Regions from separate parts of the Homo sapiens genome. Here region 1 is linked to region 2. Evidence: fine-mapped expression QTL. Tissue or cell type: whole blood. Region 2 holds a variant in brackets; the other region holds the start of a gene. All regions are shown on one strand. Distances are between the middles of the regions.

Evidence for each region. PIP is the estimated chance that this variant, and not a neighbour inherited with it, causes the effect.
Region 1: it holds the start of GAB3, and the variant in region 2 is fine-mapped to the expression of GAB3 in whole blood (TOPMed, PIP above 0.99).

The regions. Positions count from the first base shown.
Region 1 is chrX:154,746,825-154,754,928 of GRCh38, forward strand. GAB3 (GRB2 associated binding protein 3) reads right to left here and starts at 4,253. Exons shown (of 10, transcript NM_001081573.3): 1 at 4,130-4,253. The coding sequence starts at 4,201. RefSeq lists silencers at 3,899-3,958, 4,129-4,208.
Region 2 is chrX:154,506,024-154,514,127 of GRCh38, forward strand. It overlaps FAM3A (FAM3 metabolism regulating signaling molecule A), which reads right to left. Exons shown (of 9, transcript NM_021806.4): 2 at 6,800-6,913; 3 at 5,825-5,848; 4 at 2,451-2,574; 5 at 2,266-2,324; 6 at 1,788-1,838; 7 at 1,383-1,467; 8 at 1,180-1,306; 9 at 148-883. The coding sequence ends at 788. Among named protein-coding and RNA genes, the nearest start is that of FAM3A, 6.2 kb to the right of the region's middle. The variant T/G (reference allele first, on the strand shown) is at 4,702.

The sequences.
Region 1 (8,104 bases), 240 kb after region 2:
ACAAAGGACCTAAAATAGCCAAAACAACTCTGAGAAAGAAAAAGTTTGAGGGCTAAAATAACCTGATTTCAAGAATTATTGTAAAGCTACAGTCATTAGTCATTAAACAGCATGTTGTTGGCATAAAACAAATAGATCAATGGAACAGACTAGAGAATCCAGAAATAGATCTACATGGATATGGTAAATGGATTTTTTTTTAGATAGTTTTGCTCTTGTCGCCCAGGCTGGAGTGCAATGGTGTGATCTCAGCTCACTGCAACCTCCACCTCTGGGGTTCAAGCAATTCTCCTGTCTCAGCCTCCCAAGTAGCTGGGATTACAGGTGCCCACCACCATGCCTGGCTAATTTTTTTTGTGTTTTTAGTAGAGACAGAGTTTCACCATGTTGGCCAGGCTGGTCTTGAACTCCTGACCTCAGGAGATCCTCCAGCCTCAGCCTCCCAAAGTGCTGGGATTATAGGCGTGAGCCACTGTGCCCTTCAGGTAAATTGGTTTTTGATGATGTTTCAAAAGTAAATCAATGGAATAAAGGCAGTCTACTCAATAAATAGTACTGGAACAAATGAAATCGGTATGCAAGAAAAGAAACCATGATACAAACCTCACAGCTTTTATAAAATTTACTCAAAATGGATCATAGATCTAAATATAAAATATCTAAATATAAAATATAAAATTATAAAACTTTCAGAGGCCAGGTACATTGGCTCACGCCTGTAATCCCAGCACTTTAGAAGGCCAAGGTGGAAGGATCACTTGAGGCCAAGAGTTGGAGACCAGCCTGCGGGCAACATGGAGAAATCCTGTCCTCTCTACAAAAAATACAATTAGCAGTGCATGGTGGGGAGCAGCTATAGTGCCAGCTACTCAGGAGACTGAGGTGGGAGGATCACTTGAGCCCAAGAGGTCAAGGCTGGGTGACAAAGGATCTTAGGCTAGATGAAGAGTTGTTAGATTTAACATTAAATCCATGATTCATAAAAGAAAAATTGTATTGGGGATTTCATTAAAATTTTTAAATTTTAGTTCTTCAAAAGAGGATGAAAAGACAAAAACTATGGGCTGCTAGAAAATATTTGCAAATTAAATATGCAACAAAGAACCTATATCCAGAGAACCTATATCCAGGGACAAAAACAGTGCCTGGCTCTTGGCATTGTTTTGAAAACTAAATGAGTTAATACAAGTTCTTAGTGTAGTGCCTGGCACATATAAACATTCAATAAAAGTGAACTATTATAGCTTTATTATCACTGTTATTATAGGACTCTTTAAAATGGATAAAAATAGATGCAAGCCAAATGTTCACCAATAGAGAAATTGTTATATTATATGTATTACAAGGAATATTTGACAATGCTTTAACGAATGAAGTAAATCTATATGTACTAACCTGGAAAGATGTCCAGGATGTTTGTGAACAAAGCAAATTGCAGGACCGTTAGTAGAATATGATCCCAGTTGTGCAAAAAGAAAATTATATATTTTCTGAAAAATTTTGTAGAATGGTACTCACTGAACGGCTCACAGTTGTTATCCCTGGGTTGGGGAGTGGAATAAGGAGGAGAGCAAAGGGAAGGTAGCGGGGTAGGGGAAATTTAAAGGGGGTCTTCACTTTTCATTCTATTTATTAACATAAGAATATATTTCTTGTGAAACAAAAAATACAGATGAAAATAACTATCTTTTAAAAGACCAGTGATAAAAAATAACTTTCTGATTGTCTTCACTGATGGATTCAAGTGGATGAAGTACAAGCCTACTTTGGACTGAAAGGTTTACCTAAAAACTGCCTGAGCTTCCATTTGTAACAGCAAACATTGATGGAGTGCTGCTTGCTGGCCTGGCAGCACGAATAACTGAGTTATTGTCCTGGTTGTGCCAATAACTAGTTTTGCTATGTTACTATTATAAATGTTAAACTATAAACTGGAATCAAGTCTTTTTTTTCTGTCTTCCCAGCCTGTAACACAGGGCCTAGTTCGGAGTTAGCGCTCCGTTAACGGGAGGGAGTGACAGGAATTGAATTTAAGCAGCTGTAACAGCCCTATCCAGGCCCCGTCGAAGTGACACATGATCACCATCTAGTGGTGAAAAAGATTCCTGCAGAATTTAGCTATGAGAGGAAAAAGAATTCTTTCTGTGGTGTGTTCCAGGGACAGATGCCTGTCAGCGAAAAAAGCATTGACTAGATATGATCTTTCTTAGAGACAGTTCCCAAACATCAAGGTTTATGTCTTGGAGTGTTGGTAAGATGACACCTAGGTACTCTTGTGTCTTAAGTCTAGTCACTGCCCCATCATCACACGCCCCACATATCTCTAAGCTGCGCAGTGTCCACTCTTGCCACATCCCCTAAAGGAATGAACCGCGTGTGATAATAGGCACACACACTCATGCCTTCCCAAAGTTGATGAAATACTAATAAACTTCCCTAAGCCAGTCTGCTTAAGATACAAAAAAAGACTGGGAAATAAAATATTCTATAATCTTTGCCCTCCAGGGGCATCTTTCTGTATCATCTACTGAAATTGTATAGTGAACCTTTAAAATGTCTGTCATTCCAAAGGACAACAAGGAAACCCATCCTGAGTCAACACTGCAAGCACTACTGTGTGACAAAAGCCTCACCTGCTCATGCAGGTGATGGGAGCAGGTTTTCTTCTCTTGCCTCCTTTGAGTAGCTTCACAGTTAAGGAAGCAGCTGGATAATGCAGAGGCCAAGAGATATTGGACCCTGTGCTTATGGACTCCTGGACTCAAAAGCAAATGATGTAGGGACACACTGGCACTTAGAGAAATCTCAGTATTTATGCACTCCTGATATTCACGTGCTAAATAGAACAACCTTCCTCTAAAGTTCTGTTCTGCAGAACAAACAACAAAAATCTTTTCAAAGACCCCTAAGAGAGAAACACACACTGTCTAGCCCGATGTGAATGGGGAAAGAGGGCTTGAGCAACTCTATGTTCAGGAAAATCTCCTGCCACACATTCTGGAAGTATTCATACATTATTAAAGTCTTTTTATAATCCCACCTCTTGAACTTCCACACAATATGTGCCTCATCTATGTGGGAACAAAAACAGTTGTGAAATTTGGCCAGAAGAGGACAGCAGTTTGAGAGCACTGTATAGACAAGAGCACAAGGCTGAACCACATTTGGGGTGGGCTGCTTTGGATGAGCGCAGACATGCGCGAGTTTGTTCCTACCACCGTGCAGTGAAGTTGCAGAGAAATTAGGAATTAAGAACAAGATGAATCCATCCAGCTACTCCCAGCCTAAAAAAAGCAAGAAGTCCTAATAGCTATTTATATGCAACTCCCTGGGGACTGAAGTGGTTCTTCCTAATGGCTGAAAAACACTGAGTAGCAATCAGGTCTTTAAGCAGAATGTTTTTAAGACCTTATCGTGAGGACGCTGATGGAGATAATGAACGTTTGAGGTGTCGATAGTACATCTTAAAACGGTAATGGAATAGGTAGGAAGATTCGCTCTTCCAAGTATTCCTAATTTCATATTAGTAAAAGTCAGTTGTCCAGCTGGCACTATAAAAGCGCGGTGTCAGCATTAAGAAGAAGCTGAAAGGAGTTACACGATGAGAAACGAGTTACACTGTGTAGGGTTCCAGACAGCAGTGTCCGATGACAGCTACAAGAGCAGCACTCCTTACTCCTTACGGTCCAGGGGGAATGCAGGCAATTCCCCTCTGGCTGTCAGTCTCCCTATCCCCTGCCGCGTCTCCTTCGCGGGGCGATGGGTCTCAGAGCCACCCCCAGCCAAAGAAAGGGGCACGCTTTCGAGATGTCTCCCTGGCCGCTCCTGTACGGAGAGTGGCGCCTGAGGTTTCAGCCCCAACCCGCCTCCCTCCGCTAGAGTCAGCGGCGGTCTGGAGTCCCTGAGCCCCGCGGGCAGGCGCCACCTGGTCTCCGGCCCGCTGCCTAGCACAGCGGCGAAGCTGGCTCGACGTGCGATTTCGGTTTCCGTCCGTCGGCCTCGCCCGCAGTCCCGGGCGCTGGGAGCGGCTGCGCCTGGCGCGCCCGGAGCCCAGCGGCTCCCCGCGGCCGCCCCGCGGGCGGGTGCCCCGGGACGCGAAGGCCGGGCGGGTGGCGGCGCCCCTACTCACGTAGCGCTGTAGCTTCCTCTCGGGGGGCGACTTAACGAGCCAGCCGGTGCACACTGCGTCGCCCGCACTCATCGTGGCCGCCGCCGCCGCTTCCTCCAGCTGGGCCAGCCGCCCGCGGCAGAAGGAAGTCGGGCCAAGGATGCCGGCGGGGCGGGCCCAGCGCCCGCCCGCCCAGCGCCGCCCCGAGCGGCCGCTGCGACCCCCGCCTCCGGCCGCCGCGGCCCCCGGGGAGGGAACCGACGCCGCCCGCAACCCAAGACGGCGGGAAAAGCAAGCAGCGAAGCCTGGGAAGCCCCTTCGAGCAACTGCAGCTCCGCCAGCGGCTGTGCCCGGGGGGGGGGTGTGGGGGGGGGAGCCTACGCAGCAGGGCGCCTGCCACTCTCACCCAGGGTCACGAGAAAGCGCTCGGAAGGAGCCCTGCGACCTAATGGGAGCACAGCCTGGAACCTGTTGCCCTCATGCCCCATCCCCAATCCGCCACGCCAAACGGGCTGGTCCCTGGGTCTCAGGGACCCTGGAGCTGAAACCCAAGTACCACCTGCATCTGCCATGTGCATAGTTCACGGAGAAACAAAAGCAAGACTCCTCTTGGACTTCCCTATTCCACTTGATTGCTTGCACAGTAGTGTGTTTTCTATGTCCCTCCCCCAAAGATCGTTGTATTCAGTGATAAGCTTTGCCGGCTAAACGGTCTAAATGTCTTAATGAACCCAAATGACCCAAACTCAAAAGGTAGTGCTGTTTGCAATCTCTTTGACTCGAAGGTTTTAAAAGATGGATCTAAAGTCGATTGTGCCAACTAGTGTGCTGACCACGCTAAGTAAAAATAACAATCATGAGCACCTAACACTTGTGACCTTCCTTACTGCCAAGCTAACACCATGCCAGCGATTGTGCTAAGCACTTTCCAGGCGTTATCTCATTGAATCCACACAACACCCTGTCAAAGGGCTCTTATTATTATCTCAATTTTGCAGGTTACTAAAATGAAAAACAGGATGACAGTGTCACTTGTCGAGAGCCACACGAGAAAATCATCCATAGGCAGCCAGAGCTGTGTCAAGAGCCCATCCACTTAAGCACCACCCTCTGCTTTTTGTGGGTATCATCTATGTGACGTTTGCTAGCATCTTCAACAGAATGACCAACCTCCCATCCTATCAGGCCAGATGCTTCAGGGTGATGAGCTAACATGGTAACACCAGTGGAGTCCATCAGCATGCGCACACTGGCTTATAATGATTTTCTTGTGTGAGATAATGTCAGTGTGAATAATGGGTTCAGTAAGTCAATGGGCAGGAGTGCCAGCAGAAATGTGAATTTTAAAAAAGCGAATCCATGTACAAAATTAGTACCTGTTCAAGTGAGAAAAAATTGCTGCCCCTTCCAGATGGCAGTCCAGGTGGCTGTCTGGTCCCCCCAGGGAATGCTGTTATTAAGGGTTCATTGTTTGTCTCTGCCTGTGGGCAGCTTGAGCACTTAGCAGTGGCTGTGGCCATATCAACTGTTGCCAGTCCCTGAGAGCCCCACTATGCATTGCTAATTCTCTAAGTCTTGCTTACACCTCTGTTAAAAAAAAAATCCCTTAATTATACTTTCCTCATTTCAACCCCTTGAGTCTACTGTTTGCTTCCTTTTGAAACCTTGACCGATAGACCTGGTCATGAGGAACTCCCTACGACATTCTGGGTGTAAGTCCAGGGAATGGTGATCATGCAGCAGCAGGGGCCACAAAGATGTGAGCCACCTGCTCTAGCAACTTTCCTGTACCTTCCAGACCTGCTTGAGTCTGGTCTCAAATATTCCACTTCCAAAAGAGGATGAAATAGCACCAAATTTATCAGTGGCAGCTGAAGTTCCATGGTTCTTTGGTGCCCCATGGTCAAGCATTCAGACTTTGCCACAGCCCAGGAGCAAGCTGGAAGCTGTTGGTCAAAAGGAAAATACTTCTTTTGTGGTAGAGGGCATGGTTTACTTCAAAACTCTAGGGCTTTGCTGTGTGTTTCTCCTACTGGGACTTGCCAGAGGCTCCGTGTAGCCTCCCAGTGTGTCAAAGGTCCTGTACCTGTTGAATCTACATGGTCATAAGGGTCAAGTGGCCTGGACCTGTCACAGAGCCTTTTCTTGCCCTGGATCTCTCCCCGAAAACATGCAACCCTACAGATGACTTGCTGAGTGCATTGGTGCGGCACAATTAAATGTAGCATATGTTGCCTACAAAATTCAAACATCCACACCAAATGCCGTGCCTCTTTCTGAGTGGTAGGTGGTAAGCGGTACAACAACATGTTGAATACCCAACGTGGTCCAGACCATCTAAAAACTTTGCTGAGGTTCAGGCTCTTGAGTTTTCATGGGGCTTATCTCCTGCCCTGTGGTGTACTTGTATCTTAATAAAGCATCTAGAGTATTCGCTACCTCTAGATCATCAGGTCCAGTACATATGTCATCAGTGTAATAAACCAGCACAACATTCACAACAATCAAGCTCCATTCAACGTGGATTATGACAGTGAGCCAGAGAATAGATATAGTCCTAAGGTTGTACTTCTGTTCCCGCTAGATGAAAGTAAGCTGCTTCTAGTGTTCTCTGCTGAATGGGAAAAAATAACATTTGGCAAAGGAATAGCTGTATCCCAGGTGCCAGGGGGCTATGTTGATTTGCTGTAGGAAAACAGCATCATCTGGAATAGCAGCTTCAGTTCGAATCACAGCCTGATTAATTCTACAATTACCCACTACTAATCTCCAGACTAGCCAGATGGGTTAAATAAAGATGTGATATGAGTAACTATTCCCGTATCTTTTAGGGTACCCTGTTCTCACTGCCAGAGAAATCGAAATTGTTCCTTTCATGGAAACCCATCTTAGCTTCTCTGCACTCTAGCCTGGGGAGAGGAGAGAATTTGAATAGCAAGTGATTTTTGGCACCTGCATTCCCTTTGTGGCTTCCCCATTTATTTTTTGTTTAAAATACACTTTGTTTCACAGTTCATTAACTTCTGTAAATCTTATAACTACAAACTTGTGAAAATAAATGCCTACTATTACAGAAGAGTTTCTATCTCAATTTCATCATGATGAGTCAAAGTGACTATGCATCTAACTTATTTGCTATGAAAAGAAAATTTGAAAAGAAAACTCTGGATCATAGACAGGCAGGGGAAACAGCTTCAAATGTGTGTGAGAGTCAGTAATGAGGAAAAGGACTGCACCTTCCTATATCTCCCACCTCCCACCCACCTCTTGATTTAATAAATCTAAGAAGTATGTGAATTAAAGGCCTGGAGTGCCATGGCACAAGTTCAGATAGGGGAACACTCTTTTTCCTCTATAGGCATCCATAAACGACTTCTCTATGAGTTAAAATCATCTAATTTTCATGTGGAATATGAAATTTGACTTTATTATTATCAGTGATAGTCTTTCATCATATCCATTATTGTTGTATTTAAAATTGCCCAAAATTGGTCAGGTATGGTGATTCACACCTGTAATCCCAGCCCTGTGGGAGGATGAGGCAGGAGGATCCCTTGAGCTCAGGAGTTTGAGACCAGCCTGAGCAACATAGGAAGACCTCATCTCTAAATAAATAAGAGATTGCACAAAATTGTTGTCATAAGTCCAAATCAAACACTTCTCAATTCATTCTATAAAGCCAGTATTACTCTGATACTTCCAAAACCAGAAAAAGTTAAAAAAAGAAGGCTACATGCCAATATGCCTCATGAATATAGACACAAAAATCCTTAGAAAAATACTAGCAAATAGAATCCACAAATACATAAAAATAATTATACACCATGCATCTCAGAGATGCAAGGCTTGTTCAATATTTGAAAACCAATTAATGCAATACAGTACATTAACAGACAAAAGAAGAAAAATCACATGATTTATCAGTTGATGCAGAACGAGCATTTGACAGAACTCATGACAAAAACTCTCAGAAAACTCTCAGAAAATGGGGGAATT
Region 2 (8,104 bases):
TGTTGGTGGCAGGAGCCCTGGAGACAAAAGGCTGTCTGCTCGGGCTGTGGGAGCAGGTTGGTTAAGACTCTGGAATCTGTCCTCCCGCACCCCAGAGGACACCGCCACCTCTGACTCCGCACTGACAACAGCATCTGAAGGCATTTCTTCTGTGGGGCCATCACTTTATTAAGGGGTCATCTAGAAGGTGGGCCCCCTGACAAACCGCGGGACTGTGATCGGGCTCCAGCTACTTCACCACCCCGGGCCAGCCTGCTCCAGGGGTCCCTTCCTGCTGAGAGCAGGCGAGAGGCAGTCAGGCTCATGAAGCAGCCACCGGGTTTGGCTCACTGGAAGGAATCACACTGGAAACATGTTTAGCCCGCAGTGCAGAGTGGCTCCAGAAGGGAGAGGTTCTGGAAGACGCCCCAACCTGCCGGGCTGCTCCCAGAGATGCACAGTGAGGGGCAGGCACCCAGGGCCGTTCCAGGACTCAAGATGGGGATGGAGATGGCGTGAGGAATGGAGGACAGGGCTAGATGGGCTGACCGGGGGGAACAGTGTTACGAAAAGGAGGCGGGTACCCTGGGCTCCCGTGACAAAGTGCGGCAGGGCTACCCCCTGCAGCCCCCATAGCCCCCACCACCTTGAGACCACGTTCTGGTCACTGCCTCGGAGCCCCGATGTGTTGGGGCCAGGGAGCGCTCCTGCCCGGGTGTGGGGTGTGAGCCTCAGCCTCTGTCCGCCCGGCAGCGCGCGTGCCTCCCTTGGTCTGGCCTCCCTCGGCCCGGTCCTGGCACTGGCCGTGCTAGCTGGCCGTGCTTCTCCGCGGGATACAGCCTTCCATCTCCAGCGCCTCGGGCCAGCCTTCGTACTTGTTGCTGTGCTTACTGTTCTTCACGTGCTGTGGGGAGGGGAGCAGAAAGTCATGACTTTGGCCCTCAGGGACAGGGGACAGGAGTGGACCAGGACCCAGGCTGTCAGTCAACTGTGCTGTGTTGGCCAACGGTGTACTCTCAGGGCACTTGGCCCCTCCACCCATCCCAGGGAAACATGGCATCAGCTGCACTGGCCCACCCCTCATAGCTGGACTGGGGACGGTCCCCTGCTGGGGCGTGAGCAGCTGGGGAGGCTCGTCGCATGCAGGCAGAAGGGGCGACAGGCTGCCCCGGTGGGGGTGATGCCAGGCACCCCCCATACCTGCTCAAAGGGGCTCTTGTTCTGCACACCCTTGGCCCCGACAAACACCCAGCTGTCCCGGAAGGCCAGCTCCTTGGCGTTCCTGCTGCCCAGCTCACTGAAGAGCTTTCTGGTCTCTTCATTCATCCTGCAGCATGGGAGGAAGGGGTGTCAGCTGTTGCTGCAGAAGGGCAAGGCTGAGGCTGGCCTCCCCAAGCACCTACTTGGTGGCTGGGTCGTCGTAGGATGCCACGAACACCAGGGTGCCTTCGTGCAGTGGCCGAATAAACTTCAACAGGTCGTTGACATCTGGGGGGGCAGGTGCCACGGAACAGGGGTCATCAGGCACCACTGAGCACCCTCCCACAAGCCCGTTCTCCAAACAAGGAAACAGAAGTAGGGATTGGGCCTGGGACATGCCCCGCCAAGGGACAGGCTGGTGTAGGAAGCTGAGGCATCCCCGTGACCTCCCACAGCCTCCAGACCAAGCTGGCGATGCCCCTGTCCTTTCTGAACCCACGGAGGTGACTGAGAAGCTCCAAGTACAGACAGAGAGAGCAGTGTCTCAGGGGAAGCTGCCCAGGTCATTTTGCTGCAGTCAAAATGCAAGACGCTGCGCTGCAACTCACCTCCGGCCCACATGTCAAAGGCCCGGGCCTCGATGAGCTCGCCGCTGACCCCTGTGTCAGGAGGGAGGGGCCCTGCTGGGTAAGCCAGGCCAGCCTCAGGGCACGGCAGGCGGGTAGCACCGGGGGTGGGGGGCAGCCCTTCTGGAAGCTTTCAAACAGTCCCCCAATATTCATCCATTTGTTCAGGCAGCTGCATCCCACCCCAAGCCGTGGTGCCTCTGTCTGGCATTTGAGGCCCTCCGGGGGCTCTCCATGAAGCACCCTCAACCTCCCAGAACCTTCCCTAGTTCTTTATTGCCATCATGCTTTTTTGTTCATTGGGTCACTCCTCTGTGGAGCCTTGCGCTTGCACAGACTCCTTCCCAGGCCTCCCTGGGAGATCTTGAATGGGAGGGGAAGGGAGGGCAAACACCCAGAGGCCTCCTGGGGAGGGAGCAGGGAAGGAGGGCGGCAGGCCACGCTCAGCCAGGGGCCTCACCGTTCACCAGGGCGATGTTCAGCCCGCGGCCCACGTTGTCCTTGACGCTGCTCATCAGCCTAGTTGGGGGGGGGTGGGGGGGACGGGGAGATCCCACATGGGCACGTCTGCTCCACTCTCCCTTGCAGACCCGGCCCTGGATCCCCCACTCCCTCCCTGATCCCCAGTCACCCCAGGGAGCTCACATCTTGTCCTCGAGGCAGATCTTGGGCCCAATGACGTTGGCGGCCCCGCTGACCACGCGGAAGGCCAGGTGCTCCTCAGGACACGGCTGGGGCAGGCCACACTTGTACTTCCTGGCCCGTGGCGCTGGGCAGGGATAGCAGGTGTTATCCATGGGCCTGGCCCTGAGGTCACCTGAGATCTGAAGGGGAGGTCAGGACCAGCACACATGGTAGAACAAGTGACCGCAGAGCAGGACACAAGTAGGGGGATGTGGCTCAGGCCGAGGCTGGGGACACTTCCATACTCTGTGTCCTACTGGTGAGGCCACAGGGACCCAAGACAGAAGGATTTTCTGTTACTGGTGGGAGAAAAGAAAGGATGCTGAGGGCTGGCCTGGGCCACTGCACAGCCAGGAACAAAGCAGGGGTGAAGTAAGTCAGGCTGGGGGTCTAGCTGCATGGATGAGGCCAACCTGAGCAAAGGCAGTGTGGCAGGGGGTAGTGTGGCAGGGGGTGCAGCCTGTCTCCCGATTTTGATGGGGGTTGGTTGGGAGGACTGGAGCAGGATGGCTTCTATTATGGGTTGAATTCTGTCCCCTCAAGGTATGCTGAAGTTCTAATCTGTGGTACTTCAGAATGTGATGTTTGCAAATAGGGCCTTTGCAGTTCAGATGGGGTCATACTGGAGTAGGTTGGGTCCTTAATGCAACATGACTGATGTCCTTATAAGAACAGAAGTGACAAAGACACACAGAGGGAAGACAGCCATGGTACAGTGGAGGAAGAGACAGGAGTGACACAGCCAGAGGCCAAGGTATGCCTGGGGCCACTGGAACCTGGGGAGGTCAGGAAGGACCCTCCTGTAGAACTTTCAGGGTGAGTAACGCCCTGCTGACACTTTGATTTCAGACTTCTGGCTTTCAGAATGGGGAGAGAATCCATTTCTGTTGTTTAAGCCACCCAGTTGAAATGGCAGTTCCAGGAAATGGATACAGGTTTTGGCACCAGGAAGTGTGGTGCTTAGGTAACAAATACCTAAAAATGTGGAAATGGCTTTGGAACTGGGTAGTCAGTAGAGGCTTGTCTTAGTCCATTTGCTGCTGCCATAACAGAATACCACAGACTGGGTAATTTATAAAGACAACAGATTCATTTGGCTCATGGTTCTGGAGGCTGGGAAGTCCAAAAGCATGGCGCCGGCATCTGGTGAGGGTCATCCCGTGGCAGAAAGGTGGAAGGTGGAAGCAAGCATATGAGACGCAGGAAAAAAGGGGGCTGAACTTCAAGGTAACTAACTCACCCATAATAGTGGCATTCATCCATTCATGAGGGCAGAGCCCTCATGACGTAACTACCTCAAAAAGGCCCTCCTCTCAATACCAATACATTGACAAATTTCAACATGAGTTTTAGAGATGACATTTAAACCATATCAAGGCTATAGAAGTTTGAGGTACATGTTAGAAAAGGTCTGGATTGCCTTTAAGAGACTGTTGGTAGGAGTATGGATGTTAAAGGTAATTCTGGTGAGAGGAGGGGAGAGCAATAGAGACAGCCTCTGTGGTCTTAGAGAATACAAATATCATCAAGAACAGAACGTTGCTAGAAACATGAATGTTAAAGGTGCTTTTGGGTTGGGTGTGGTGATTCACGCATGTGATCCCAGCACCTTGGGAGGCCAAGGCAGGAGCATCACTTGAGGCCAGGTGATCAAGACCAGCCTGGGCAACATAGTGAGACCCCGTCTCTACAAAAAATACAAAATAAGCTGGGTGTGGTGGTACATGCCTGTAATCCCAGCTACTCAGGAGGCTGAGGCAGGAGAATCACTTGAGCTATGATTGCGCCACTGCCCTCCAGCCTGGGTGAGAGAGCAAGACCCTGTCTCAATACATTCAAAAAATAAATAATAAAAAATAAAACATTAGCTGGGTGTGGTGGCACATGCCTGTAGTCGCAGCTACTTGGGAGACTGAGGTGAGAGGATCGCTTGAGCCCAGGAGTTTGAGCTTACAGTGCACGGGGATGATACCACTGAACTCCAGCCTGAGCAACAGAGTAAGACCTCTGTCTCTACCAAAAAAAAAAAAAAAAAAAAAAGGTGCTTTTGGTTAAGCCTCAGAGGAAAATGAGGGACATGTTATTGAGTTATTGGGCGCTGGAGGAAAGCTGATCCTTGTTATAAAGGAACTTGGCCCAGGTGTGGTGGCTCACGCCTATAATCCCAGCACTTTGCGGGGCCAAGGCGGGAGGATCACTTGAGGTCAGGAAT[T/G]CGAGACCAGCCTGACCAACACGGTGAAACCCCATCTCTACTAAATATGAAAATTAGTTGGGTATGGTGGCAGGTGCCTGTAATCCCAGCTAATCAGGAGGCTGAGGTGGGAGAATCGCTTGAACCCGGGAGGCGGAGGTTGCAGTGAGCCAAGATGGCTCCACTGCACTCCAGCCTGGGTGACAGAGCAAGACTCCGTCTCAAAAAAAAAAAAAAACTTGGTTGAATTGTGTTCTAGTGTTTTGTCGAAAGGAGAATGTGTAAGTGCTGGGTGCTGAACTTGGATATTCAGCTGAGGAGATTTCCAAGCAGTGTTGAGAGCGTAGCCTGACTTCTCCTTGCTGCTTATAGTAAAATGTGAGAGACATAAGGAAGAAACTGTTGAGCACAAAGGAGCCAGAAAGCGAAGATGTGGAAAATTCTTGGCCTAATCATATTACAAAAACTGCAAAAGTGTCCCCTGGACAGAACAGCAAGGCTGTTCAAGCGTTTGCCCCAGAGCTGAGGTATGTGACTCGTGGGTCCACTCAACCCTTTCAGCAGAAATCTACAATGAAGATGGGGTTATCTAGGAAGCGTCTGTGGGAAAACTCTCTGATTTTATAGCTTGGGCCTCTATAACTTGCAAAAGAGACCAACAAGGCTCTTGAGAATCTGACACCAGCAGAAACACTGCCGGCCTGGAGTGAAGGGGGCAGAGATGAGATAAAGGGAAGGAAGGGTGGCCCCGAAGGTGGGGCTGTCTCGTTTCAGAGCATGGGTCATTCCAGCAGGCCCAGAAGAAAGAATCTCAGGCCACAGAGGATTCCCCTCAGGCCTTGAAACCAAATGAATTTTGCCCTGCTGGGCTTTGGACTTGCTTGGGACGGGTGACCTCTTTTTTCCTTCCAAGTTGCCCTTTTGCAGTGGGAGTATCTATCCTAGGCCTGCCCCACCGTCATATTCTGGCAGGAAGTAACTTGGCAGGAAGTAACTTGTTTTGTAGGTTGACAGTGGCAAGCAGCCCCCGTGGACCACCACAGCTGGTTTGGGGAGGAATAAATGGAAAACCGAAGCCCTACGGGACCGGGGGCAGGCAGGGATGTCACAAAGGGGAGGAGCAGGGAGGTGACAGGGGCCTTACCTGCAGTCACCGAGCTCTCTGGACCTGTGGATACAGAGTGGTTTCTGTTAGTGTGGAGCCTCCCGGGGCCTGCGGCAGGGCAGCCTGGCCCTCCTTACACCGCGAAGTGTAGACACAGGCAGTCAGGCTCAGGGGCCGGGGGCTAAGCCAGGCCGACCTTGGCATGCTTCCTGCTCAAGTGTAAGTCATGTTCAGATGAAAAACTCCCTACTCTAGGAACAGGGGGAAATGGAATTAGAAAAACTACTTAGATGACCTGGCCGGGCATAGTGGCTCATGCCTGTAGCACTTTGGGAGGCTGAGGCGGGTAGATTGCTTGAGCCCAGGAGTTTGAGACCAGCCTGGGCAACATGGTGAAACCCCATCTCTACTAAAAATACAATAATAATAATAATAATAATAATAATAATAATAATAATAAGAAGAAGAAGAAGAAGAAGAAGAAGCCGGGTTTGGTGGTGCGCACCTGTAGTCTCAGCTACTCGGGAGGCTGGGGCACTAGAATCGCTTGAACCCAGGAGGTAGAGGTTGCAGTGAACCGAGATTGCACCACTGCACTCCAGCCTGGGAGACAAAGTGAGACACTGTCTCAAACAAACAAACAAAAAAGTACTCAGGTGACCTATTACCAGTCAACAAGGTGGAGAGTCCCCTCTCCATCTCAGAGCCTGCAGGGAGCAACCGGGGCATCACTCCCCATGTTCAGTGGAAGCTCCCTACCCCTTACTCTGGCCCTACTGACTCCAGTTGGGCATATAATTCTAGTGATCAGGTATTGGCTTTCCTAGATGAAGCAACTGGGTGTTGGGGGAGGCTGCGCCTGATGCCAGGAGACAGACTGGGGACAGCCAAAGGTAGCCTGCCAGGGAGGAGATAGAAAACCCAAGTCAACTCCCAACCCAGAGCCTCAACCACAGGCCCAGGTGGCCACCTTGGTGGCCTCCAGAGAAGGATAAGGCGGGGTCCCACACTCACTGGTGAAGAGTTGCTGGATGCGAGGAAAGCCACTGCCAGGCCCACCCAGGAGGATGCTGACCACGATCCATGTGACACCCACACTGACGACTAGGACCACAATGCGGAGAGGGCCTGGAGGCAGGATAGACACAGGGTGGGGTCACCTCAGATACCAGCGAACCCCAGAATGACCCCATAGCCTTGCATGACTGGATCTCCCCTGCCACTTGGGAAGAAGTGGCTGGAGGACAAGGAGGTGGAGACCTGTTGCCTTCTACCAGGGCTGAAAGGGAGACTTGAGCTCCCTGGCAGGTGGAAGGAGGAAATTGAGTTCAAATCCCAAGGCTGCTGGGTTTGGTTTTCCCTGGCGGGTCTGGGAGGGGGCCTTCCAGAACTCTCTGCTCGAGAAGGGCTCCAGCCCTCTTTCCAAGAACCCCCTCAACTTCCTGCCTCTGAAACCACCAATATATTTGGGCATCCACCTGCCCCTGCTTTCCTCCTGTTCTGAGGGAGAAGGGTCCCTACTCCCTTTTAAGACCAGTCCCGGCCGGGCGCAGTGGCTCACGCCTGTAATCCCAGAACTTTAGGAGGCCGAGGCGGGTAGATCATGAGGTCAGGTGTTCGAGACCAGCCTGACAAAGATGGTGAAACCCTGCCTCTACAGAAAATACAAAAATTAGCCGGGCATGGTGGCGCGCACCTGTAATCCCAGCTACTCAGGAGGCTGAAGCAGGAGAATCAGTTGAACCTGGGTGGCGGAGGTTGCAGTTAGCTGAGACCATGCCACTGCACTCCAGCCTGGCGACAGAGTGAGACTCTGCCTCAAAACAAAAACAAAAACAAAACAAAACAAAACCAAAACAACAACAGTCCCGTCATCTGCTGGGACCTGGATTGCAAGCTCCCCAGCCTTCTCTGATTTCTTGTAATAGTGATCACTCTCTCTAGTTCGCTCTTTCTCCTGTATTTTCAACATCTCCAATGTTAAGGAAGCAAAGAAAACACTCTTCTTCAAAACCACATCCCCATCCTCTTTCCCCTAACCTTTCTTTTCCCTGTCAACCCCCTCAAAAGTCATCTATACTCATTCCATCATCTCACCTCCTACTCCCTCCCACCCTACTCCAGTCTGGCCTGGCTTCCACCACCTCACCAAATCAGCTTGTTGCCAAGGCCACTGATGACCTTTGTGGTGTCACCACCCCTGGTGACCTGTCAGCCTTGATCTTCCTTGACCTCTCAGTGGGCTGCCCATGTCCACCTGACAGAAGCACTAACTTCTCTGCTGGCTTTCCGGACAGCACACTCTCCTGACCCAATCTC